4 linked regions of the Homo sapiens genome follow. The protein of the gene in region 2 purifies or fractionates together with the protein of the main gene of each other region. This does not show direct contact. Each region holds a gene or a part of one and is shown on either strand. Other genes may lie near its edges.

Region 1 (7,029 bases), on a different chromosome or scaffold from region 2:
ATGGTAGCTATAGCCTTATGAAATATATTTCTTAAATAAGACTTAAAAGTCAAAGTTACTCCTTGATCAGTGGGCTGCAGAATGGATGTTGTGTTAGCAGGCATGAAAACAACATTAATCTTGTACATCTCCATCACAGCTCTTGGGTGATCAGGTGCGTTGTCAATGAGCAATAATATTTTGAAGGAATCTTTTCTTTTCTAAGCAGTAGATCTCAATGGTGGGCTTAAACTAAACCGTGCTGTAAACAGATGTGCTGTCATCTAGGCTTTATTATTTATAGAAAACAGGCAGAGGAGATTTAGCATAATTCTTAATGGCCCTAGAATTTTTAGGATAGTAAATGATTATTGGCTTCAACTTGAAGTCACCAGCTGCTTTAGCCTCTAACAAGAGAGTCAGCCTGTCCTTTGAATCTTTGAAGCCAGGCATTGACTTCTCTATAGCTATGAAAGTCCTAAATGGCATCTTCTTCCAAAAGGAGGCCATTTCATCTCCATTAAAAATCTGTTGCTGGCCGGGCTCGGTGGCTCATGCCTGTAATCTCAGCACTTTGGGAGGCCGAGGTGGGCAGTTCACGAGTTCAGGAGTTCAAGACCAGCCTGGCCAACATAGTGAAACCCCATCTCAGCTAAAAATACCAAAAATTAGCCTGGCTTGGTGGTGGGAGCCTGTAATCCCAGTTACTTGGGAGGCTGAGGTAGGAGAATGGCTTGAACCCGGGAGACGGAGGTGGCAGTGAGCTGAGATTGCACATTGCACTCCAGCCTGGGTGACAGAGCGAGACTCCATCTCAAAATAAATAAATAAATAAATAAAAAATAAGTCTGTTGCTTAGTGTAGCTACTTTCATGAATGATGTTAGCTACATCTTCTAGGTAGTTTACTACAGCTTCTATATCAGCATTTGCTGCTTTCCCTTGCACTTTTATGTTATGGAGATGGCTTCTTTCTTTAAATCTTGTGAACCAACCTCTGCTACCTTCCAACTTTTCTTCTCTAGCTTCCTCACCTCTCTCAGCCTTCATAGAACTGAAGAGAGTTAGGGTTGCTCTGAATTAGGCTTTGGCTTAAGGGAACATTGTGGCTTGTTTGATCATCTATCCAGACCACTTCATATCAGCAATAAGGCTGTTTTATTATCATTTGTGTGTTTACTGGAGTAGCACTTTTAATTTCCTTCAAGAACTTTTCCTTTGCATTCACAACTTAGCTAACTGGCTCAAGAGACCTAGCTTTTGGCGTATCTTGGCTTTCAACATAACTTCCTCACTAAGCATAATCATTTCTAGCTCTTGATTTAAAGTGAGAAACAGGTGACTGTTCCTTTCACTTGAACACTTACAGGCCATTGTAGGATATTAATTGGCCTAGTTTCATGTTGATCATATTCTTTATGTTGTCATGGTTCTGTCATAATTCTTTTAGTTCTATGTTTTAATAGTTTTGGTGCTTATTACCAGTACTGTTGCTTCTCCATTCCCGAGTTAGTCCATCTCCTGATTGAATTTCATTGTCAGGCAGTCTTTTCAAGTTACAGGTACTGCATGCATTCTTTGGGTTCTTATACACTTCATTGATTCAAAATATTTGTCTTTTGTTTTTATATTACTTGAAGGATTACTTGGCTAGGTATAAAATTTATCAGTCACACTTTATTCCCCCTCAACTTTGTAAATGTTGTTCCATAATCTCCTAGTGTTTGATTGGCTGGATTTCTTTGTCCAATGTTTTCTCTTTTTATTAGGAAGAATTTGTGAGTATTATAGTCTCTGAGTTTCAATGCTTGCTGTTTTCTTTAATGCTTGAGAATGTCTGTCTATTGCTTTCGTTCCTGAAAAATAACTTGTTTGGGAACACTTTCATTAGAACTTTGTGGTCCCTGTTTTATTATTTTGGGACATCTAGTGTTACTGTAGAAAAGTCTGATTTTTCTCCCTACCTCCTTGAAGGCAATTTTTTTTTTTAATCTAAAATGCCTGAGAGTTTTCTTCTTTATTTTTGAAATTCAGTAATATAAACAAGGTATATCTAAGTGTCACTTATAATCATTTTTCCCTAAATTATAGTATGCCCTTAGTTCTTCTAAGAACATTTTCCTTGTTTATTACCATGAATACTTTTTTTTGGTCAAATTATTAGATCCTCTACTTCATGACACCAGTTTTTTTAATACTGAATTTTCTTTTGTTGTTCGTATGTATTCTAATTGCTTTGATTTGTCTTTTACCTTTGCATTTACTGTGATCATCTGAAGCCTTTCTTTTTGTCAATAATTCTGTTTTCTCCAGTGTCTGTCCTGTTTTTGATATTTTAAATGAATTAATTGGTTAAGTCATTGTGTTATATAGGCTCTAAGTTTCTTTAGCGCTACAAACGCATTTTCATCTTATTCTGCTTCTTCTTGCTTTTGAGCTTGTTTATTATAAGGTTGTATTGTTTTCAAGTTCTTCATTATGATGAAGTTGTTGAGAATTTTCTTTAGTTTTTATTGGGTTATGTATCCTTCCAGAATGGGTTCTTTGCCACTTGTGTGCCCTATTCATTTCTTCATTTTGTGTTCTTTCTTGCTTTTTATTCCCTGTATGTGCGTGTTTCTTTTTGTCAGGCTGTAATACATATGCATACATGTTTCTTCTTGATGTGGGAGAACTTCTATGTGGTGCTGATGGGAAATATTTTTAATACTCCACTCTCCTTACCCAAGTTTGTTTTTCTCCTGAGCCCTAGTTTGAAAGCTGTATATTGTTGGAGTGGAGGGAAAGAGAAGGGAAAAGTGGTGATTCAGAGAGCCAAATGGGGCAATGTGGCTTTTAGGCTCTGCTCTCTTGAAGTACCAAGTATTTCACTCTTGGGTCTGCCCAACTGCTTATGAATAAAATTCCTTTGCCTTGTATGGGGACATCATTCGACCTCAGAGCTCTCATTTCTCTTTGTTCTGAGCCCTAGAATGTGACCTGACCTTCTCCTTCCCAAAGCAAAGAGATGGTTAAAACTCACTCTTGAAATTTTTTTGTTGACTTTTCCTTGTGTTGCTTATTCATTCCTCGGCTCTACTTTTTGTCATTTTGGAGTGTATTTCTGGTAAGTGTTTAGGATTTTGTAAACTATTTCCCTACAACCTCTTATTGGAGGTAGGGGTAGAGTTGGGAATGACCATCAATCACATATAACTTTGTTTCTTATTTTGACTATCAGTCTTCAAAATTTATGGCAGGCCCTTTTATATTTGGTTGCTGCTAATAAAATGTTGGCCTTTTTGTTTTATTTTTTGTTTTTATTTTTTGTTTTATTAGATTTTGAAGAAGGGAGATTCTAAAATGTAGTTCAGGTTTTCTCAGTGTCAGCACAAATAACATTTTGGGTTGGATAATTATTTGTTGTGAGGGGGTTGCCCTGTGCAGAGTAGGATATTTAACAACATCCCTGGCTTCTACCCACTAGATGCCAGTAGCATTCCCCTAGTTAAGACAACCAAAAACATCTTCAGACATTGCCAAATATTCCCTGGGGAGAAAAGCACCCTGATTTGAGAGCCACTGATCAATTTTGTTCATTCATCTTTACTCCCCCTAAATACCTACATCCAAATTTTAAATAGATCTTTCTCATGTAGTCTGGCAAGTATTATATCAAAGATAAATACCAGTTTTAGAATAAAGCATTAATATACTCTTACATTTCAACTTAAGAGGCAAATATTAACAGTAGGATTTGTAAACTATTTATTGGAATAAAAATCAATGAATTTTTAAAAATTACAAAATGATTTATGTATGTTAGATATTTTACTGAGTGAAAAAATTCATGCTTTTTTAAATGACTTATTGTTTGGAGTAGTGATACAGTAGATTTAATTTCCCCCCTCATTAATTAAAATCATGTTTTAGCCAAGAAAGTGAACAAAATTCTTATTGGCAATTCAGTTGTTTCCCGTTTTGGAGACTGACACGCTCCAGTTCTAAGTTAAATAATTGTCATGGTAAAGTAATTTCCTTGAAAAGAACAGACATTGATTCAGCCCCTGTTACTCACAAATCCTATTTGAGTCAAATTGGAAAACTATTAAGTTTTTGGGAAAAAAATCAATAGGTATCAGGAAACCATTAGATCTTGTGGCCCTTGCTATATCTTGCATGAGTAATCACTGTAAACAGCTGACAGGTATTTCATTGTTGACACCGAGTGATGCTTGGGGGACCACATCTTGGCAGAGTAGGTGGACAGCTTTAGACGCTGGAATGAGTTTGATTATCCTTGTTTTTCTCCTACACTCATTCTTTTAGACAGCCCTGTCACTAACTGGGCCTGTGATGCTTTCAAAAATCAAATACTTTCCTTGCTGTCAGTTTTCTTTTTCTTGCGTTGTGGCATACTAATCAGGGTATGTGGTTTGGTACTGAACCAATTTCTGTCAAAAGCAAGTTTTAATTTATTATTTAGGAAAAATTTTTCCTAAGACCCAGGTTTTATACAGTACTAAATAAATAGTGTGAGGAATAATTAGTAATGCCATAGAGTATATAATTTTACTTCTAGTTCTACACAGATTACAAGTAAATTTTTTTTGGGCAAGTGATTTTGGAATTATCTATGTTTTGTTTTCCTTTTCCTTTAGAGTGATAATTCACTATTTATGATTGAATGATTATCATATTAAAGAGGTGAGAAAATAAAAATAAGTCTGATGTGCACAAAGCCATACTGCTCAAATTGTTTGATAATATCTGTTAATTAAATTATTATGGCATCGGTAGAAGAATGATGTTTTGTTTATATGTGGTTAGAATTGGTCTTTTTTAAAGGAAATAACAAGAGAGATGGAAATGGAATGGGTATAAATAGTAAAAGGTTCTATCACTATAATTCCCTTTTGCTATAAATAGTTAAAGCTTCTATCACTATAATTTCCATAAGAAGATATATGTGTTTACCTGTTAATTTTATCAGGGCAAATTAAAACATGGATAGAATCATGTTTCTCAGTGTGAAGAAATATTTTTATTTGATGAATATTATATATTTTCAGGTGCAGTGGCTTCTATGTTTTGGGTTGATGCTGAATTAGGGAGTGATATTTATCTTGATGGTAAGTTAAAAAACAGTTTTCTTTTATCTTTCTTGTTTTTTTTTTTTTTTCTGAGACAGAGTCTCACTTTGTTGCCCAGACTGGAGTGCATGGAGTGCAGTGGCATGATCTCGGCTCACTGCAACCTTTACCTCCTGGGTTCAAGTGATTCTCTTGCCTCAGCCTCCCGAGTAGCTGGGACTACAGGCGTGCACCATCGTACCTGGCTAATTTTTGGATTTTTAGTAGAGACGGGGTTTCGCCATGTTGGCCTGACTGGTCTTGAACCCCTGACTTCAGGTGATCCGCCAGCCTCGGCCTCCCAAAGTGCTGGGATTACAGGCGTGAGCCACCACACCCTGCCTCTTTTGTTTTTTAGTAAAATCTTTATGGTTAAGCTTATTGTTGTTGTTCATTCATATTATAACTTTAATTCCTTGCATTGTTGTTCTTTTCACACTTTAGTTTAATGATGAAATCTTTGTTCATATAGATTAAAAAACCCCAGACAGTGGTGGAACTCGATGTCACTCAACTTCCAATTTAGTGCTTCCACTAAGGTTTTCTTTAAAAAAAAAAATGCTTTGTAGGTTTTCTGTATCCTCTGTTGTTTGATTTATGCCCTTAATATAATGTTAGAGCCTTTTATTTTAATCCTCCAGGCAATATGAGGATCATATTTTTGCTTTTATTTTCTCTTGAAGATAAGAATTAAACACTCCTGTCTTACTTTATTTACCTGAACACTTTTGGGCAATGATATGCCTTCATTTAAAATATATTAGAAACTTTCTTAGTTAAGCGACTATGTTTTCTCCCTTTCTCAGTCGAAATTTTCTTACTTTTTCAAAAGTAATAATCATTAAGAAATTTAAGAATTATTAAGCTGGGCCCCATCATTGAGCTCTAATATATGTGGCGGGTAACTGGTTGAATTCCTTAGGCATAATTAAACTCATTCTTTTGTTATCAGCATATATTCAGAGATTGCAAAATGAATTGGTAGTTTGGAAACTTAGGCATATGTTATGTAGAACATTTATGAGTTGGATTTGGATTTGGTGAGAGATGTTAGGAATGATACCTTAAGATGTCTCATTCTTTAGGCAATAATTTAAATCTTAAGAAAAGTCTTGATTTTGATTATGTGAAAATAAACTAGAAATAACCTGTCTTATGTACTTATCACATTTGACTATGTTATGAAATTTGACTTATATTTTGGATTGTAAGCTTTTTCAGTGCCAAGGAAATCTTATTTTCTTATTTATTTAATTTAAAATTTTTATTTGTTTTATATCGTTTCTAGTGCCTTAAAATAGTGCTAGCCACTCAGGAAATGCATTGACTTATTACTGGAATTTAATTAAATGGCAGCACTGGCAAGAGAAAAAAACAGTACATTGTTTTATTGAGTAGTATTTGTGAACTGAAATAGGTTAGTTTTAATTTTCATTTTGAAGTATGGTTGTACAAATATTAATAAACATTCTTTTTAAAAAGTGATTAAAATGTTTTTTCCTTTGTAGGTATCATAACTATTGTGGATTCAAAATATGGATTAAAAGTAAGTTGAAAGATTGCTATGAGTGGGTCATTATTGAGAGCTGGGAATATGGGGATTGATTGTTTAATTTTCTTTATGTTTGTATCTGAAATTTTCTTTAACAAAAACCTTTCTCAAAAAGATATCCTGAACAATAGGTGAAATTTGTGTTTTAATTATTAGTTTGTGTTAAATATTTCTTTTCTATTACTCTGAGTTTGATTTGGTGATAAAATTTGGAATTATAATTTGTAATAAGCATATGGGGTTAGGGTAGAGTTTGGTATGTATAACTCTTCACAAGGATTCAACCCCAATATTGGTAAGTTTTTCTGTTCCATAGAAGAAGCTGAGCTTGATAAAGCATCTGAGATCTTATTTTTCTTGTTAAATTACTATTAAACACACACTGGAA
Region 2 (7,029 bases):
CTCTATGAAAAATAAGGTATCATAGTTATCATCAAATATTCCTTCTATTCAACCATTCCCATTGGCAAAGAAACATTGCATAATTTCTTCCATTTAAAAACAAAAACACACAAACAAAATCTTTTCTCCTGACTCAATATCTTGCAATTACTGAGCTATTTTCTGCTCCTTTTAATAGTAAAACCTCTCAAAAGAGTTAATTATGGTAACTCTTTCTAATTCTGTCTACCCAAGTCTCTCTTGAGCCCACTCCAACCAGCACTCCACTGGAACTGTTCTTGGCAGAGTCACCAACAAACCACATTGCTAAAGCCAGTGGTTATTTCTCAGTCCTTGCCTTACTTCATGCCAGTGTAGTCACACCTGATCATTGCTTACTCCTTGAAACAATTGCTTTACTTATCTTCAACCTACCCTCATGACTGTATTCTAGTTCTTGTCAGTGACAAACAAAATATTGTCAAACATGGCATGTGTGCATACTTACAGTATAAAGAATATATCAGTGGAATAAACTTTGGTCAGGTCAGGGAACATTTTAAGTCCAGTGTTGAAAATGCCACTAAATTAATGAAAAAAAGAGAAAAAAAAGCATAGAATTTAGGTAAAAAAATCAACACATAGGAAGGAGAATAATGTAATAGCTGAAAGCATGGGTTCTGAAGACAACCTGTAGTCAAACTCCCAACACCTTCCCTAAATATCTGAGTAACTATGGGCAAGTTCTGATGGTTGGATGAGATGATATTCCCTCAAGGCATAATAATTTAATCCAGTCCACTGGTGTCAATACATCTGCTCGGCTTAGAATGCTCTGGAGATTGTTTTAACCAAGTGGGTTTACTAGAAATATAAATTCAGTTTTCGTGTGTGTGTGTGTGTGATTTTCTCGTTTAATTGGAAAAAATTATGTGTTTGTTAGTGAAGGGCTAAGAAGAAGATGGGACAGGAAGATATGATGACTTTAAGCCAGCTTCCTCTTTCAAGCTCTACATGATATTATGCTGTTATTTTGCCAAGAATATCTTTCCTACAGCAGTGACCTGAGAGTACCATTATAACAGTACCATTTAAAAAAATATGTCCAGAGAGCCGGGCACAGGGGCTCACGCCTATAATCCTAACACTTTGGGAGGCCAAGGCAGGTGGATCACTTGAGTCCAGGAATTCAAGACTAGCCTAACATGGCGAAACCCTGTCTCTACTAAAAATACAAAAATTAGCTGCATGTGTTGGCATGCGCCTGTAATCCCAGCTACTTGGGAGGCTGAGGCATGAGAATCACTTGAACCTGGGAGGTGGAGGTTGCAGTGAGCCGAGATCATGCCACTGCACTCCAGCCTGGGTGACAGAGGGCGACTCTGTCTCAAAAAAAGACAGTGTCCAGAAAAGGAAGGAAACCAATCAAAGACAAAGTCTTTACCTTCTGTAGTTTATATCATCTACAGAAAAATGTTAAGATTAAAAGACATGCATAAAACACCATGAATACAAGAATTCTCAGGCTCCTGATGCCTCCCAGATTTAGTTGTTTTAACATTTGTTGCAGCTACTTGAATGTAATTAGAATTTTTTTTTTTTTGAGAATTTGGCATAGCATAGAGTGAGATCTAGACACTACTCAGTAAAGCTCTAGAGAAGGTCTTCTGGTAGAAAAACTATATCCATTGATACTCCTTCTGAGGCAAATTCAGACTTGACTCCTTCTAGAGAAGAAGGCATAGGATTTGAAGAGGCAGCAGGAGCCAGAGGTCTCAAAATCAGCAAATGGGAGGGACATTCCAGATAACAAAGGAGAGAGGTGAGATTCCATAAGGTATATTTGAAATACAGTAAACGAACTAGTTCAATTGCAATAGGTGCTCATGAAGAACAGTAGGAGGGAAAAAGGTCCAAGAGTCAAGTGGGGTCCATATACTTGGATCAAGATCTTTCTATTCTTCAAAAATCTCAAACAAGTCCCTTAAAACCATGCTGTGGGTCTTCTTTCTGATGTCTTCTCTAATTACCTGAACCCCCAAACACTGTATATGTCTCTCCTTCGTCACTTTCCATTATTCTTCTGTAGGAGAGGCACTTTTCAATTTCATACACATCTCCTCAACTAGATTACAGGCAAGGACAATGTCTTAGAAACCTGTATGTTCCCCACAGAGCATATAGTGGGGGATCATCACATCAAAGGGTTATTGTATTATTTGAAACTCAGAGTCCATAAGAAGAGTGATTGTCTTGTCCCATAAGCTTTCATGGCTTTCCAGACATCCTTTCATCTTCATATCCCATCAGTGTCTTCCATTCCCCTGGCATCTCTCACACCCACCTCTTCAATATACAACTATTGGCCAGGCACAGTGGCTCATGCCTGTAGTCCCAGCACTTTGGGAGGCTGAGGCGGGTGGATCACCTGAGGTCAGGAGTTCGACACCAGCCTGGCCAACATGGTGAAACCCCATCTCTACTAAAAATACAAAAATTAGCTGGGCATGGTGGTGCACACCTGTAATCCCAGCTACTCGGGAGGCTGAGGCAGGAGAATCGCTTGAATGCAGGAAGTGGCGGTTGCAGTGAGCCAAGATCACACCACTGCACTCCAGCCTGGGGCAACAGAGCAAGACTCTATCTCAAAAAAAAAAAAAAAAAAGCAACTATTTTTAGTTCCCCAAAGAAGCTGCGTGGTTCCCTACATTTGTGTCTTTATCATGCTATTCCATCCAGCTAAATTTCTTTTCTATCTCCCCATTCTTGTTCAAGATACCCTCTATTCATCCTTAAGGGCTTATCTCATAAAATATCTATGATAACATAAGTTTGTTTTGAAGGTCTGGATGAAGATGAACTGAAATGTTAATAGTGCTTATTTTGGGGTTTGGGATTAAGTTTTTTTTAACAATTTTCTTCTTCATACTCTTTGTTTTCTAATCTTTATAATGCATGCAAGTAGGAAAAAGGACTCTTCCACCTGGTATCCAGGGGGCCTGAGGTCATACAGACACATCCACTGAACACATTTGTACTGAGCGCCTACTCTGTACTAGGCAGTAAAGATTCAACAGAGAAAAAAAATGTTGTGGTCCCTGGATTCATGGAGCTTATGGTTAGCTCATAAGGTGTTTTCAAAGCAAAGCAGTGAGTGCTGGACATTTGAGTGCTGGAGTGGGAGGTTGAAACTGTTGTCCCTTCTGTTTTCCCTCCACTCCCCATGGAAGTGTATTTTACTCTTTGTGGGTTTTTTTTCCTGTGTAACAGCCACTCTAATAATATTGTTGTGATACCCATTTTCAAACAAAATTGACCAACTGGCTCTCAGAATTTTGTTTTGTTTTGTTCTGAAATACTACATTTAAGGACCACATATACATGATAGCATTTTCTCCCTCCTGTTTCTTGGAGCAGGTCTCTGGTTCCAGCATTATGTGCTGACTTTTGAATAGGTTTTAAAAATGTGGATCATTTCACCCGATACCTTGCCCCCGACCCAGGCTATACACCATTAAAATGAACCTGGACCACATCATCTAGGGAGATTCCTGGGAGACAACAGCATTAAATCTGACCCCCTCCCCCCAGAAAAGTAGGATGGGAGAGGATTTAATACTTACAGGAACTTTAGGAGGGGGAGCTCTTTGAGGGCATCAGGGTCTATGTAAGTTAAGTTCCTGGTATTCCGAATTTCTCTGTATAAGTTACAAGGAACACAGTCACTATAATGCATCCGTATCTGTTCTTATCAAAGACAAAACAACATAAATCAGTTTTAACAAACGTTCATGAGAAAAATATGCATTTACGCCACAGGGTACCCCAGGGGCTGTAGCTGCCAGGGGTCCCATCAATGACAAACTACTCCTGTCTCCTCACGGGGACCCAATGGCTGCTCAGCTCTTTTGCATTGTTGGCTTGGTTTCTGTCCACTTTAATTTATGGGCTACATTGTTCTTAATTGTAGTATCAGAATTTTTTTTCTTTTACATTTAGAGAAAAAAGAAAAATCCCTCCAATGATTTGGTGAGGAGTTGAAGACAAATATCTTTATTATTTATAAGTATTCTGGCCAAGACAATGAGTGTTGGAGTGGGAGGATGAGGGAATTTTATGATGAACGACAGCACAGCAAGATGGACAGTAAGGCTCTGTCATTGCCATACCAGATGTACAGAAGTGGTAAGTCTTCACAGTTCACTTGGGTTTATTTTGTCATGTCAGCAATCGAAGACACTTCTGCATGTATAGTGCAATATCGTGTGTCAGTAACTTACATACTTAGGTTTATATAAATGCTGATCAAGAATGCACAGTTAGCATTAGAGAAATAAGTAACTGCTAGAAATGAACTCTCACTGGTTAAATTAAACATATTCAACATAGGTTGATTGGCTAAAAGAGTTTAAGGCATTCCCTATGCTTACATGAAAAGTATATAAGAACCCAGTAAACCTTTAGCATTTCTCCTTAGGAGTGGCACCTAAAAGAACCAGCATCTAGTCATTGGTGGTACCAGTCAGAAAGCTTAGAATGTGACCTCTGTAATTTTTAAAGTTTTATTGAAAAAGAATTTACATTCCATAAACTTCAAACATTGTATGTAGGCATACAGTTCAATGATTTTTAGTAACATTACATGATTTTGAAACCATCATCACAGGTTAGAACATTTCTGTCAATGACAAAAGTAACCATAGGCCCATCTGCAGTTAGTCTCCACTTGCTCCTTTATGCCTAGAAACCACTGATCAGTTTTCTTTCTTTATAAATTTGCCTTATCTGGACATTTCATATAAATGGAATCATATAACAGGCAGTCTTTTGTGTCTGCCTTCTTTCATTTAGCATAATGTCTGTGAGGTTCATCCATGTTGTAACATGAATTAGTAGTTCACTCCTTTTTATTTCTGAATAGCCCAGATGGACTCGAAATAGAGTCTTGGCTCTGCCACTTCTGATTATATGACCTTGGACAAGTTTCTTGGCCTCTTTGAGCCATAGTTTTCCTGTCTGTAAAATAGGAACAATTAACAACACCTCTTTTGTGGGGCTTTTGTGAGGATTAAATAATATTCATGAGGGATTTTATGTTTGGCCTCCACATAGTTAGGGCTCTAAAATAATGCTTTTATTATTGTTATTTTCATAAGTGCAATGAAAGCTAGAAGAGACATCAGGGACTTGGGACTGGAGATGTTGTGACATTCTTGCAAAATTAGAAAAAACTCTCTGGTTTTTTCAACTAGGCATTTCAACTAAGGACACTGAATATGAAACAGACCTTGGAAAAGAGAGGATGGAGTTAACTCTGAGAACAGAAATCACCTACCTCTCTCCTCCCTAAACACACAGCTTACTGTCTATAATAATATACCCTTACTGGTCCATTGTCCTCATTAACATAACTACAATTCCAGGAGACTCTTGCCCAGGCAAATTGCTTTATTGTTCATTACAGAGAGTTTTTGAAACAAAGAACCATCAATGCTTCAACAGAAAGCATCAACAGTTTATACCCCAAGATCTTAGAACTCCTCACTTCCAAATCCTCACTATGCTAATCCTAAACTATTATGTCATGATTTTTACCTAAACAAGACCCTGCATGGAAAGATCCTCTTTATACAATCTTTCATTTTTTTGTCCTGGCTTTAAAATGCAAAGCCCATATCCTTGGAATTCCCTCTGTCTTGGGCAAAGTGTGACAGTTGGCCACCCTACTCCAAAATCTCATAATTTTCCCACCTTGCCCCTCTAGAGACTATCAATCTCTGTTGAGGTGGTTCTCTCTTTCCAGGGTGAGCAATAAACTCCTTGCCAGAGCTTTCCATTGGGGGAGGAGGGTTTGAACTACTGCCAGAGACAAACAGATGTAAACTAGATGCAGGAGTTTGGAAATTGAGCAGGGTTTGCAGTCTGGAAAATTGCTCCACAAGAGACTGTCGTTGAACGAGTAGTCCTGAGTGAGTGGTCTAAGAGAACGTCAGAGTGAAAGAAAATGCAGCCCACCTGGGTCAGCTGAAAAGGTAGAGAATAAAAGGGAAATGAAATGCAGCTGCTAGTAACAGTTGATTAAATGAGGCTGGCAACTTACATGGAGGCTGGAAGAGGAGAAATGTGGGAGAGGCAGCAAGGAGAGAGAAGGAAACATGAAGGAGGAGAAGATTTCTAGAAGGAAATGTAAGAGCTACAAAGGAGAAAGATGAATGAGAGACCCCACAAGAAAACAGCAGGGAAAAGAAGCTGCTTTCTGAGGTAAGGCAACAGCTTACCACTTGCTCACAAGTGACTTTTGAAAAGTATCTCCTGAAGCAGAGAAGGGGTGGAGTGGTCGTAGACTGCCAGTAGTTTAGCTAAATGGTGAGAGATAACAGCTGGGTGTGGTGGCGCATGCCTGTAAGCACTTTGGGAGGCCGAGACAGGTGGGAGGCCGAGGCAGGTGGATCAGTTGAGGTCAGGAGTTCAAGACCAGCCTGGGCAACGTGGTGAAACCCTGTTTTTACTAAAAATGCAAAAATTAGCCGGGTGTGGTGGCTTATGTCTGTAATTCCAGCTATTTGGGAGGCCAAGACATGAGAATCGCTTGAACGCAGGAGGCAGAGGTTGCAGTGAGCTGAGATTGTGCCACTGCACTCCATCCTGGGCGAAAAAGCAAGACTCTGTCTCAATCAATCAATCAATCATTAAATAGAGAGGTAACATAAGAAGCAAATGCAACTAGTAAAACCTATTCAAAGATAGGAAGAAAGGAAGGGCAGAAGTGAGTACAAAAGAACATCTAATCAGAGAAGGGTGAAAGAGGCGTTCAAATTTGAATGCCTTCAAGCATGCCTCTGAGGGTGAATTTGAATCACACCATTTTGAGTTAAGCAATTATGGCCTGAGTGTGCAGGAGGCTAGCTATGCTGCCAGAAAGCTGGAGACATTGGAAGAAAGAAAAGCTGTTTGTAATACAGCACACTAGGAATGGAGATGCCCTCCAGAGCTGAAGATGGCTGTGCCTCCAGCAACCTGAGGCCCTGAGTGACTGCCTGAAGGTGGCTG
Region 3 (7,029 bases), on a different chromosome or scaffold from region 2:
AGGGCAATTATACTTCTGTTACTCAACTTTTAAGAAGCCAGCATGCACTATGTTTGAATTTTTTCCCAAAAAGAGGGCAAAGTTTAATTGCATATTTGATGTTTTACATCTTAAATTATTCCTTAGTTTTTAAGTGCTACATTGTTAGTATAATATCAATAAAATGTTTATAGTTTCTGTCTATAGTAATAAAGTTCACTATGATAATAAGGCTAGTTCAAACCATGTTCAAGAAAAAGAGAAATTTCAGGGCAGTTTCCCCACTTCTTTAGAAAGAGGCACTGCCACATATTTCCCATGTTACCATTTACAAAAAGCCAGCCAAACAAAACCTTTGGTTCAAGTTATTAAAAGTTTAAACAAATACAGTATTTACCTAATATATTTTCTAAATTAAAATCCACAGGAAGAGACAGCAATGTCTGACAAGCAGCTGGAAACAAGCAAATAAATAAACAAATTCAAACATGGGATAAATCAATGAAAGTATACACTATACAATTCAGCATGTGCTGCCCAGTCAATCATCTCCCCGTGATGTTCCAGCCAAATGGAATTATTCATTTCTGCATTCTATCACATACCCTGCCACCTTTCTAGAAGTGGTTTCCCACACTCTCCGCAACTGGTGTAAACGTGTTAATAGTAAAAGTTAACTCCTGGCTCTGGTACTGGCACTTGAAAAGGAAGCCAGCCTATATCTGGGGGGAGATTTCTCACATTAACCAATTTTCAAAAGAATGCTTTCCAAGACCAGAAATCAATTCACATGCTTTGAACAAGAAAACAAAACACTAGTGCTATTTCTAAAACATGGCTGGATGCATCTGTTCTACTATACTTGTTTTTAAAGGTCAGCTCTCATATGGTTATTATGTAGCTCATTGAAAAAATCCAAACAGGCCAGGCTTGGTGGCTCATGCCTGTAATCCTAGCACTTTGGGGGGCCAAAGTGGGCAGATCGCTTGAGCCCAGGAGTTCGAGACCAGCCTGGGCAACATGGCGAAATGCTGTCTCTACAAAAAAATACAAAAATTAGCCAGGTGTGGTGGCGGGTGCCTGTAGTCCTAGCTACTGAGGAGGCTGCGGTGGGAGGATCACTGGAGCTCGGGAAGTCAACGGGAAGTCAAGGTTGCAATGAGCTCTTGATTGTGCCACTGCACTCCAGCCTGGGTGACAGAGTGTGACCCTGTCTCAAAAAAACAAAAATAAATTAAAAAAAAAAAAAGGAAACAATTTCAATTCCAGAGTAAAGTGTTACTACCTGAACTGGGTTTAGAATTCAATGTAGCTTAATATGGAACATCCTTCTTTTCAAATTGTGTTCATACTCACCATCGCTTTTCTCAGAATGAATGGTCAGCTTTTTTCCAACTGGAGAGTCACTATTTATGTTAGTGCCTGTAAGACATTTTAAGTGAAAAATCCTATGTTTTATACTCTTCATTTGCTTTAGCATTACTTTTTCCAAAGTAAAAAATTAAGAAAGTGGAAACTTATTTTGCAACATTAAAAAAAATCTGCATATATAAGTATATATTTTGGTATGTTTCTATTATTTTTTTACCTTTGAGGGAATACAAGGATAAAACTAAAGGATTACCACAGCAAATAAGGAGTCACCAAGCAATATTTTTTTTACATTTTTCTTTAAATAATTGTATACATTTATGGGGTACAATGTGATGTTTCAATATATGTATACACTATGACAAGAGCAAATCAAGCTAATTAACATATCCATTGCCTCAAATACTTTTCTTTGTGGTGGGAACATTTAAAATCCACTTTCAGCAATTTTGAACTATATGATACCTCATTATCAGCTATAGTTACCTGGCTGTGCAACAGATCACCAGAACTTATTCCTCCTGTCTAACTGAAACTTTGTACCCTTTGACCAACATCTCCCCCACCACCCCTCCTCCCTACCGTCTGGTAACCACCACTCTATTCTCTACTTCTAAGAGTCTGACTTTTTTAGATTCTACATATAAGTGAAATCATTCAGTATTTGTCTTTCTGTGGCTGGCTTTTTTCACTTAGCATAATGTCCTCTAGATTCATATATGTTGTCACAAATGACAAAATTTCCTCTTTTTTAAGGCTGAATAGTATTCCATTTTGTGTGTGTGTGTGTGTGTGTGTGTGTGTGTGTGTGTGTGTGTGTATATATATATATATCACATTTTAAAAAGTCCATTCATCTGTTGATGGACACTTAGGTTGACTCCATATCTTGGCTGTTGTGATTAACGATGCAGCAATAAATATGAGAGTGCAGGTATCTCTTTGAAATAGTAATTTTGGTTCCTTTGGATAAATACCCAGTAGTAGGACTGATGAATCCCAAAGTAATGTTTTTTTTTTAAGGAAATGATGATTACTCTTCATGACGTCAACCTTAAAAGGTTAGGGATACCTTTTAGCTACCCTCAATGTCCTCAACAGATTAAAATGCCAGATTATTTTGACAAAACCTGAAATTTGATCAATAAAACCATATAGTTTCTTTCACAAGAAGAGTTAAAAATATGGGTGCAAATTATTTTAACTCTAAAGTTTTATAAATTGAAAAATCACCAGATTAAAAAAACTCAAAAACCAAAACCATCTCAAAAAGACTAATATAAGTAAGATAAAAGGAAGAAAAAGCAAGGGGACCAAACAAACCCCCCCTCCCCCCAAAACCAGAAACAACTCAGGAATTCTAAAATAAAATGACAAAATAGAGTGTAGTAACCTAACAATTCTAAATTTTAAAATGGGTAAGTGGGTTGCTGAATAAATTAAATTTCCCTGTGAAATACTATCAAAACGGGTAAATAAAGAAAATTTTGGATGCAGATGACTTTGTCACTGCATGCAGAGTGACCTTCTATAAGGCAGATGTAATCAATACTCTCTCTGCCTAAAACCCTGCAATAGTCTTTAGGATAAAATCCAAACACCTCAATGGCTTACAAAGCCTTTCAAAACCATGTCTATTTCTCTAGCATGGTTGCCATCTAATTAAATATTATTTGAGTACCTAAAACAAACAAACAAGAAACAGGTATCTCTCTCATCTCTAGGTATTATCTTATGCTCTCTCCTCCCTGCCTTTTCTCCCCTGCATTCCAAGAGTCTAACTCAAATCTCAGCTTAAATTTTATCTTCTGCCAGCATGCCTTCCTTGCCTTCCTCAGACCAGAAAGACACCTACAGCAACATTATCACATCACTTTTCAACTCTATTCCAAGTGTTTTGGTTGCTTCCCCTAGAAGGGCTTAGACAAGTTTAAGACCACAATCAAATGAGGAAAAAAAAAAATCGATGGATTTGACTGCACCAAAATAAAAATTTCTATGCAACCCAGGATATCAAGAACAAAGAGTAACATACATATGACAGAATGGGAGATAACATTTGAAATGTTTAAGACCAATATAACCACAATATGTAAGGTATCTTAGAAATTAACAGGAAAAAAAAGGTTAGCAACTCCAATTGAAACATATCAATGAATTACAAATAGACATTTTCTATGAAATGTAAAAGGTCATTAGTCTATGAAGACAAAAAGAAAACTGAAACAATCATTTAGAATGTCAAATAACCTATAGGAAAGGCAAAGATGTAAAAGCTGGATAATGCCAAGGGCAGGCAGGGATGCTGGGACACAGGAACCCTAGGGACTGCTGGGGCTGTGCAGACTGTGCAGATATTCTAGAGAGCACTCTAATACTGTGTAGTCAGATTAGGTAACGATATATTCTATAACTCAGAAATCCTCTACCTGCGTATATATCCCAGGGAAATTCTCACTCAAGTCCATAAATAAAAACACATGAGGATATGCACTGAAGCACCTTGCTGCATAAATATTAATAATAGTAAATGCTACCAGCACAAGCTAACATGTATAAACAAAACCACTTTTCCCCTCATTCACCATTTTATTTGTTAATCTTTAGGTAGATAACCAAACACCATGTGCTAGGTACATTATCTTAGAGGTACCACAATAACCATCATTTTATAGATAAGGAAACTGAGGCACAGAAAAGCTAAGTAACTCATCTAAAGTCACACAGCTAGTGAGCTTTACTGGGTACAATTCAAACCTAGATAATATTACACTAGAGTAAGGGTCAGCAAACTATTGTTCATGGTGCAAATCTGGCCTTTCACCTATTTTTTTAAATACAGTTTTACTGGTACACACTCACATTCATTTACATATTGTCAGCGGCTACTTTTGTGGTACAGCAGTAGAGTGGAGTGGTTCCAACAGAGGTTGTGTGGTCAGTAAAGGCTTAAGTATTTATTATTGAATCCTTTACACTTAAGGGCTGCCAACCTTGGCCCTAAAGTAGCATCCAATAGAACATTTTCTGTGATGATGGGAATGTTCTCTATCTATACTACTCGATATCCACATGGCTATTGAGCACCTGAAATGTGAATATTGTGAATGGGGAACTCCATTTTTAAATTTAACTTTAAATTTAAATAGTCACACGTGGCCACAACTGTCAAGAACTATAAAGGGTCTAAGATTCTACCCAACTTGGCAACTAACAGGTGAACATGTCAAAGTTCCATTGGTGCTGGCTAAAGACATGAGGCTTCTGGGGGCAGAGATAAAGGACTTTATTATTTTCAGCACAGCAGGCAGCATGAACTTAACATTCCTATTAATTCCCTTTGCTCCCAAGTGCCAAGAAGATGACATGAAACAGTCCAGTGCAGTGAATTCTTATAATTCTGCATACAAGCTGGACTTTCTCATACAAAAAGCAGGGCTCATTCACCCGACACAGTTTCCAGTTCTATACCTCAATGTGGTTGATCCAGATATCTGCCTTATATAAATTCCTCCTGGTAACCACCTCCCTATGGGCCATCTACATATGGCCTACCTGACTGACCCCCCAACCCTCATACCGCACATGGACTACACAGACATGCCACAGTGACTATCTCTCAGTCACTGTGTGACCTCCTCAATGCATGCCTGCTTGCTTTAAACCCACCAACTAAAACTCTGTTTGGATAATGCCCTGGACCCAATAAAGGCGTTGGCCCATGGGTCCCTTTCTCTCTCTTCCTGACCTCCCTGTGTGGTGTTCAGGTATGCTGTGTACCCCTAGGACTTGTAAGTAATAAAATTTTTATTTCCATCTTGTGTCTCTCCTAATCATGGGAGGAGTGCTCTCTATCTTAAAAGATTCTAAATTAAAATACCCAGGTGGCTGGTGGACACACAATGGGTTTTCACCATAGCTAAGGAACCCCAAGCTTAGGAAATCCCATTCTTTTAAGAGAGACTGCAAACAAATCTGCTCCAGAGGGAGACATCATCTTTACTATACTGGACAGCAAAACAAACTTACCCTCTGCTCTGGTGGGACACACTATCTCTACCTTCCAAGACAAACACCCTAGAAAAGATAGTTTGGAACAGAACTTGTCCATGCCACTTCATGAAAGGTGTGCAGAAATGTGAGGCCTATGGAGAATTGTCTCCCAACAACACAGTAAACAGCACAGCTCTGGAGCCTATCCTATTAACCACTGCACTGTTATCGTGGGCTTGATTAGATTTCAAAGAGTCTAAAGTGTTTTTAAGCATCTTCTTGATCCTGCATCACTTGAACTAAAACAGGATACTTGGAATACAAAAATGTTATTTAAAAAATCACTTAAGAAGGTTGATTCATCTGTTGAAAAAATCCAACAGTAAAGAATCTGGGGGTGAAAAACTAGTATCTATGAGAATGCCACCTTGGACACACAATTTTAGAGCTGGGGGGATGTAAATGGACAACTCTAGTTCAATCCTTTTATTTCACAAATAAAAGACTGAGGTACAAAGAGAATAATTTGATCAAGGTCACCTCTCTGGTTTATAAAAGTAGGAGGTTTTACAATCCAGATTTCCATCTACTATTGCGTGCTACCACTAATTCATAATGGCTAAGAATACAGCATCTGATTTGAGAATTTTGAATTCAGGTTTTCCCACTTTTATCATCTCTGTAACCCTGGACAAATGCTCTCATCTTTCTAAAACTAGGTTTTCTTACCTATAAAATGGGGCCAATAATTACACCTACTTCATATGAGTTATAAGAAATTACTGAAAGCACTTAGCACTGTCCTGGCATAGAGAAAGTACTAACCCAGCTTACCTATTATTGTTGTATTATTATGTTGTGTTTTTTGATAAAGAATGGAACAAACATTCCCTCTTATACTGAGAGCATAATTAAGGTATACTACAATAGACAGTGTAATTCCACTGTGATGAGGGATGCATATATACAAGTGATTCCTGAATACTGCCTCACAACCCAAAGAGCAGTGAGAACAAATATATGACAACCATTGCCTGGAGGTAGAAAGATAATTGTTAGCTTACTGGCTTGCCCTTTAATTTCCTTATTAATTTTGCAGATACTCAGCAATAATACACTGTCCCAGAGGTCATATTAAGTCTTCATCCTTTCTTTACCTTTATAAGAAATCAGCAAATTAGCAAAAGGCAACACAATTTACGGTTTTATCTAAAATATTAACCTTCAAAATACTGCTAAAGTCATTAACAACTCATCTCTATATTCAATACCAACTATTTCTTCATCTATGGATCCTCTATAACCATCATTATAACTGACATTCACAATAGTCATGAAGAAAAAGTTAAATTCAGAGTATAACAGCTAAAAAACAATTCAATAAATTTTAGTCAAATTTTTAATTCTAACCCTAAAAGGAGTTAAATTCTATGTTATCCAGAATTTTAAAGCAAGCTTCTTACAAAGCAGATATACTGGCACTTCATGATATGTTGCTTTATATTCACCGACTTTTTTGATTTTTATTCATATCATTTTTAGTACACTCACATTTACTGGAATGACATTGTGAAAGCTGTTTCCCTTCATGATCAGTCCAAGGAGAGGGTACGATGACATCTTTAGTGAAAAACTAGGAAAATTAAAGTCATACAATTAGGCATAAATTCCACCCAAAATGTGAGA
Region 4 (7,029 bases), on a different chromosome or scaffold from region 2:
GGAGGGGGCTCATTGGAGAAATTTGAGCAGGGGAGCCACAAGATTAAATTTGAGTATTAAGGCATTCTGGTTATGGTGTAAAATGGGTTAGCAAGCTTTTTCTTTAAAGGACCAGGTGGGAAATATTTTGGACTATGTGGTCTCTGTCATATCTACTTAACCGTGCTGTTGTCTGCTGTTGTAGTGTGAAAGCCACCATGATTATATGTAAGCAAACAGGCATGACTGAGCTCCTATAAAACTTTATTTACAAAACCATAATGCAGATTGGATTTGGCCTGTGGCCTATAGTTTCCTGGGATTGATGGGAGATAATCATGCAAAGAAACCAGGAGACAAAGGAAGCTTTTGCAGTAGTCAGCTATAGTTTCCATGTCACACATCCTTGGAGTAGCATCAATGTATTACAAGGTTTTCACCCGTCCATGGTAAAATAAATAACGTTAGAAATCTCAGTTACTCATTTTACTATGTTGGCCTTCGTTATGCCTTTTTCACTTGTTTTGCTTAATTTTTTTTCCTGTAAGAAATAACATTAATAGTTGGCAGTTTTCTTTTAAATAGAAGTCATTTTGTAAATGTTTGTGTTCCCAGTGGCAGTGGGAATATAAAACAGAGGCAGAAGAGAGGTATAGTCAATATGATTTAGTGATAATTGAATGAGAAAGGCTTGGGGGACAGAGAGAAATCTCAGATGATGTACAGGTTTCCAGATTGCACACTAGTATTTAACCTGGACATGAGGAAGGAGTAGGAAATTTTCTGGTGAATACAGGAGAGCAAAGAGCAGCAGGTCAGCAGGAATGACTAATGTTTTTCGATGCATGTTTAATGGAATATTCGTGTAGGGTATTTTGAGTAGGTAATTGGATAATCAGCATTTATAACTCGCATCCTACTAGTTTGACTCTAAGTAATAAGACTTGTCAAAGATCCAAGAATCTGAAAGTCAGTAATAAATGTCCATGTGCATCATCGTCCGTGACAGAAAGTCAGCATCCACAGAACACAGAATTGGGACAGATGAACTTAATAGATAAAGATGAATATCGGAGTTGTTCCTCTTAGGGAATGATACTCTCCATGACCTGTGTGAGTCACAGCTGCCAGAAAAGAAAGAGCAAGGAGCGTATGAAGGCAGCACAGCAAATTCGGTCCTAGAGTGCCCTGCTTGGCTTCATGTCATAGTTCTGACTTCTAAATAATCATTTTCTGCAAAATGTGCTTTTTGTTTTTCCCTCTTGCCGCCTGCAGCCAATCAGAATCTTTTTAGCAGGACATAATGAAAAGAAGTAAGAGAAAGAGTGTTTTTTTGTAATGGGATAGTATTTAACGTAAACTTGAGAGTGAGTACCAGGATTATACTTAGAATTTATGGACTGGATGGGAAGACTGGATAGAAATCTAAAGATTGCTGACTCAAACACAATGTGGTTTCTTTGATTTATTTTCACAGCTCTGAATTCACGACTGTTAATTGTATTCATATGCATTATAACTTTACAAAGCATCTTCCGAAACCAAATATTTACTGATTTATTATAATTTGTATGACTTTATTATAGAACTGACTTTCCAAGTGTTCATGAGAATTGTTTAGAATTTGCTACATTGTATCATCTCAGCTGTGTCCACATGAGCTATCTGTCACCTTGTCTTAATGAATAATTGTTCACTAGGAATATTGGTTTTGGCATTGAAATGATCTATATCTAAATGCAGATAGGACCCGGGACCACTTTTGAACATTAATGTTCAAGCATCTTAAAATTACACATAATGCTTTCATAATCTGACTTCTGCCCCACTCTCCATCTTTAGCCCTTTTCCCTGTGTGCCCTGTCTCTGGCATTACTGAACTGCTGGCAGTGCCCTACTCACTCATCCTTCTATTGTAGGCAAATACTTTCACTCTTTCAGGAGTCGCTCCCGCTCTTGCTGCTGCGTGGCATGCCGTCACCCTTTCCTGCCCTCTACACCTTTTAATCTGGCTAGTCTCAATATTTAAGTCTCTGCTTGGGCATGTGTTCTAGAAAAGCCATCTCTGACATGCTTTATTTTAATTCTTTTTAAACCCTAATGCCTAGCATGTATTTAGCAGGACTCAATAAAATATTTCTGAGTAAAACAAAGACTGTTTTTACAAAGATGATGTGCAAGACTCTCCCCTGCAGTCTTGGAGCAGAGGGGACAGACGTGGAGGAATAATGTACAGTTTAGGTGGTCAAGATGCAGTAGAAAAATCAGTAAAGTACTAAGGCAGCCTCAAGGAAGGAGGTACCTGTTTATTTGGGGAAAGACATGCAGAATCAAGGAAGACTTCATATAGCATTGTTTCAAAAGATGAAAATAAGGCCAGGTGTGGTGGCTCACACCTGTAATCCCAGCACTTTCAGAGGGAATCACGAGGTCAGGAGATCGAGACCATCCTGTCCAATGGTGAAACCCCATCTCTACTAAAAATACAAAAATCAGCTGGGTGTGGTGGTGCTTGCCTGTAATCACAGTTACTCAGGAGACTGAAGCAGGAGAATCACTTGAACCAGGGTCGCGGAGGTTGCAGTGAGCTGATCACACCACTGCATTCCAGCCTGGTGACAGAGGAAGACTCTAGCTCATAAAAAAAAAAAAAGAAAAAAGAAAAAAAGAAAATAAATTTGTCAGAATAGTGGAGAGAAACATTTTAGATATTAGGAAGATGTTGTACACTAATAAAGGTGTCAGCAGTGATTTTGGAAATCATTTATAAGGTACTATTAGGAAGTGGAGAACAGTACACTGTGTCACCTTATATGTTTCTACTGTATTTTAAAGCTGTGTTTCTGGTGGTTTTGTTCATGGATGTTGGGTGGATGAATTTGTGAGGGAATTTTTGACATGTTTGTTTGTCTTCAATCTGGTGACATCTGCTATCTCCCCAAGTGGGTTTTTGAAGTTTTTGAGAATTATTTCTTAAATGACAATTTCACAAAAGATGAAACACTCAATTTATGAAATAAAATGAAATGTCTCAAATCTGTTTTTAAAAGGCAATAGTTTTTAACTGTTTTAAGTGGTTGATTTTAACTGAATGTATGGATTTTTCAACAGAACAAGACTTAAAGCTGACATCAGAGGAAGAGTCACAAAGGCTTAAAGGCAGTGAAAATGGCCAGCCAGAGGCATGGAAACTTTTAAATTTAAACTTTTGTTTAATGTTGTGTTTTTTTTGCCTTAATAATATTAGATAGTCCAAATGAAATTACCTTTCAGACTAGGCTTTGAGAATCAGTAGATTGTTTTTTTAAGAATCTTTTGGCCAGGCAAGGTGGCTCACGCCTGTAATCCCAGCACTTTGAGAGGCTGAGGCAGGTGGATCACGAGGTCTGGAGATCGAGACCATCCTGGCTAACATGGTGAAACCCCGTCTCTAGTAAAAATACAAAAACTTAGCTGGGCGTGGTGGTGGGTGCCTGTAGTCCCAGCTACTCGGGAGGCTGAGGCAGGAGAATGGCATGAACCCAGGAGAGGGAGCTTGCAGTGAGCCGACATCCACCACTACACTCCAGCCTGGGTGACAGAGCGAGACTCCATGTGAAAAAAAAAAAAAAAAAAATTTTAATAGATTCTTAAAATTTATTGTAATAAAATCAGCAACCTTATTAACAGAAGAATCAATAGATTCTAATTTAATATTTGATATTTAACTTCAACATAACCCACTATAAAATTTAAAATACTCTTATTTTAAAATATTCTTATCTGCCTTCTTGATTAGCTTATAGCTAATCTCTCCTTTTGGAATAGAGGCAAAAACAAATTTCAGAACTTTGTTTGTTCTTTTATTTTTACAACACCCTAACATGATAAAGAAAGTAACATCAATGATTGAATCATATTATTAAGCAATAGGAATTATGAACAATGTAACACTGATTCCCTGAGCTGGATTCATGGTTAAAGAGTAATCATGGCCTGTGATTGAAAATCCACAGTTTTATATTGTCAGTCACTGATACCAAGGTTAAGGACATATCCTGCCTTGTGGTCTCTCGTTGACCTCAGTGTTTCTGTTCAGGGAGGGAACCAGGTCATAAAAGCAACCCAACTGCCTATTACAAGAACCATATCTTGCAGAATGGGACCTTTGGTGTTAGTGCACAAACACAATAACATTCTAATTTATTTCAGTTGCAGAAAATCAGTAGAGATTAAAAAATTTTATCTGCTGTCATTAGTACACATTAGAATATATTAGAACTGGACTTACGCAGATAATCTGGATACATAACACTATCATATGACAGTATATAATTTCAATTAAAATGTGAGAATTTGCATTTCTTTCTGTTTGGTGTTGATTTCGGCTCCTAATAGTTTAAAGGGTGCCTACAATCCAGTTAGGAATCTTTTAAAAAAGCACTTCAGTGCACTGTAGGTGCTCACTAGTTAGGGTTTCATGAGGTAAACTCTTTTCAAGTGAGGAAGATTTTGGAACACTACAAATCATCTGCTGATTCATTTTTGGTAGATTTAACACATAACAAATTAAATTTAGTCCAAACAAATAGTGAGAAAGTTAAGTTTGCTGGTTCATGTTTTTCTTCTCCCTTTGTCTAAGGTGAATTATTTTTCACATGTTAGAAGCCAGTGATGTGGCAGTAGCTAAACATAGATTAAAAAGTTAATTCTTAATTTTAATTATTATTTATTTTAACAGTTTAATTTTAATTACTTTCTAATTTTTATTGTCCATACTTGATTACTTCAGAATAAAATTATTTTAAAAACATGCACTCCAAAAGAGGAAATGTCACAGAAATACAACAAGCAAATTAACCTTCTGTTTTTACATCTGCAGAAAAGATCTCAAGAACCAGAAATAAATAAGGATGGTGATAGAGAGGTATACCTTTATATTCAAACGTTTGTGTTGAATTAGATTTTTACATTATGTTGTTTAACAAAGTGTAGTAAATGTAGGCATACATGATCCTATCATGTAAGTAGCATAAATCATCAGTGAAAAATTAAATAGTTAACTCAGAATTCTGTACATTGAATTTTGAAGAGGTGCAAACCCTAGAGCTATTCTTTCATTATTATGGAATAATCCCGAATGGTGCCATAAAATGCTAGGTAATGCCACTTTAGGAGCTTTAGACCAATTATTTTATCTTTCTTGGTTTTAGTCTGATTATCAATAGATAATGTGCCTAAAGTAGATAATTTCTTATTCTCTGTATTTTCCAGCTAGAAAATTTTATGGCTATCGAAGAAATGAAGAAGCACAGAAGTACTCATGTCGGATTCCCAGAAAACCTGACTAATGGTGCCACTGCTGGCAATGGTGATGATGGATTAATTCCTCCAAGGAAGAGCAGAACACCTGAAAGCCAGCAATTTCCTGACACTGAGAATGAAGAGTATCACAGGTAAGCCTATGGCAACATTGAACAGGAGGTAACTTTGTGCTGCCAAACTAATCCTAATTTGAGCTAATATTCATGATGAACAAATTTTATACTTTTATTAGGATATTGAGCCTTGCCTGTTAATCAGAAAAATGAAAATCAGCAAACAATCAGTTACCGTTTTTTTTCCAGTCATTAATTTATTTGAAAAATAACCAGTATTGGCAAATGTGAGGGAAAAGACATTTTCTTCTCTTTTCAGTGAACTTTTATTTTAGCTTCGGGGTACGTGTGCAGGTTTATTATATAGGTAAACTGTATCATGGAGGCTTGGGGTACAGATTATTTCACCAGCCACATAGTAAACAAAATACTCGAAAGGTAGTTTTTTGGTCGTCTCCCTCCTGCCATGCTCCTCCCTCAAGTAGGCCCCAGTGTATGTTATTCTCCTCTTTGTGTCCATGAGTTCTCATGTTTAGTTCCCACTAATGAGTAAGAATATGTGGCATTTGATTTTCTGTTCCTGCATGAGTTTTCTTAGGATAATGGCCTCCAGCTCCATCCGTGTTGCTGCAGGGGAAATGGTTTCATTGAAAAAGACATTTCATATACTGTTGGTAAATACATTTTGAACATTAATTGAGTAGCATATTCACACACACATATATAACAGTAAGCATATATAATACATGTAAAGGATATTTGTATAGATATGTTATATGTATACTTATGTATAAGGACATTTATTATAGTATTATGTAAAAAATTTGGAGCTAGTCTAATTCCTTATCAATAGGAAATAGCTCAATTTCCATATCCCCAAAATAATGTATTATGCAACCATTTTTAAAAAATGAGGTTAGATGTAGGGTATACTGATTATTTCACAATTAAAATGTATTTAAAGCGTTTAGTTTGATGACACATCTTAAGAGTTCTTGTTAAATTTCTTGTAATATCTGCTGTGTTGCAAATGGAAGCTACATGCTACATTGACACTGTACCTTGTTAGCAACAAGATTGCTAGTTACTAAATTTTTGTTGTCAGTGCCTGAGTGCTGAAATATTGGACCCTCAATCTGAATATTGCCAAGCGATTGTACATGGGGATCTATATTTAATATAAACATTTCAGTATATTTGGTAAAACTTTTATTAAAATACATCAAAGAATCTTTGATCTACTAAACCAGGAGTTGGCCAGCTTTTTCTGCAAAGAGCTAGTTAGTAAATATTTTAGGCTTTGTGGACTACATATATTGATTTTCTTGAGACAGGGTCTCACTCTGTTTCCCAGGCTGGAGTGCAGTTGTGTGATCATGGCTGACTGCAGCCTCGACTTTCTGGGCTCTAGTGATCCTCTGACCTCAGTCTCTACTAGCTGAGACCACGGGTGTGCAACATCACACCCAGCTAACTGACACTATGGACTGTAAAGTGAATAAGCATGGCTGTGTTCCAAGATACTTGACTTACAAAAACGGGCAGTGGGCTGGATTTGGCCCACAGGTGCTTATTTGCTGACCCTTGTGCTAAAAGGAAGGTGCTGCTAATGCAGTGACTTTTATTTGTAAAAGTGCCCTGCATGTGTGACATTATCCTCCCTTTGAGAAAAGGATATATTTCAGTATTTACC

What was found.
Region 1: the proteins of TSHR (region 2) and ZNG1A purify together in Homo sapiens (affinity purification with mass spectrometry; 2 studies listed by BioGRID and IntAct, with this or other methods). This does not show direct contact.
Region 3: the proteins of TSHR (region 2) and BORA purify together in Homo sapiens (affinity purification with mass spectrometry; 3 studies listed by BioGRID and IntAct, with this or other methods). This does not show direct contact.
Region 4: the proteins of TSHR (region 2) and POTEF purify together in Homo sapiens (affinity purification with mass spectrometry; 3 studies listed by BioGRID and IntAct, with this or other methods). This does not show direct contact.

Annotation. Positions count from the first base shown.
Region 1 is NC_000009.12:162,038-169,066, reverse strand, and holds part of ZNG1A (zinc-regulated GTPase metalloprotein activator 1A), read left to right. Parts: intron 1-4,618; exon of another isoform or gene 4,619-4,664; intron 4,665-5,029; coding exon 5,030-5,089; intron 5,090-6,597; coding exon 6,598-6,635; intron 6,636-7,029. UniProt on the Homo sapiens protein: Zinc chaperone that directly transfers zinc cofactor to target metalloproteins, thereby activating them.
Region 2 is NC_000014.9:81,084,602-81,091,630, reverse strand, and holds part of TSHR (thyrotropin receptor isoform 1 precursor), read right to left. Parts: exon of another isoform or gene 3,716-7,029; coding exon of another isoform or gene 3,678-3,715; coding exon 3,603-3,677; exon of another isoform or gene 563-3,602; coding exon 488-562; exon of another isoform or gene 1-487. UniProt on the Homo sapiens protein: Receptor for the thyroid-stimulating hormone (TSH) or thyrotropin. Also acts as a receptor for the heterodimeric glycoprotein hormone (GPHA2:GPHB5) or thyrostimulin. The activity of this receptor is mediated by G proteins which activate adenylate cyclase.
Region 3 is NC_000013.11:72,737,909-72,744,937, reverse strand, and holds part of BORA (protein aurora borealis), read right to left. Parts: intron 6,977-7,029; coding exon 6,895-6,976; intron 1,402-6,894; coding exon 1,336-1,401; intron 434-1,335; coding exon 377-433; intron 1-376. UniProt on the Homo sapiens protein: Required for the activation of AURKA at the onset of mitosis.
Region 4 is NC_000002.12:130,084,199-130,091,227, reverse strand, and holds part of POTEF (POTE ankyrin domain family member F), read left to right. Parts: intron 1-3,090; coding exon 3,091-3,161; intron 3,162-4,840; coding exon 4,841-4,885; intron 4,886-5,232; coding exon 5,233-5,414; intron 5,415-7,029.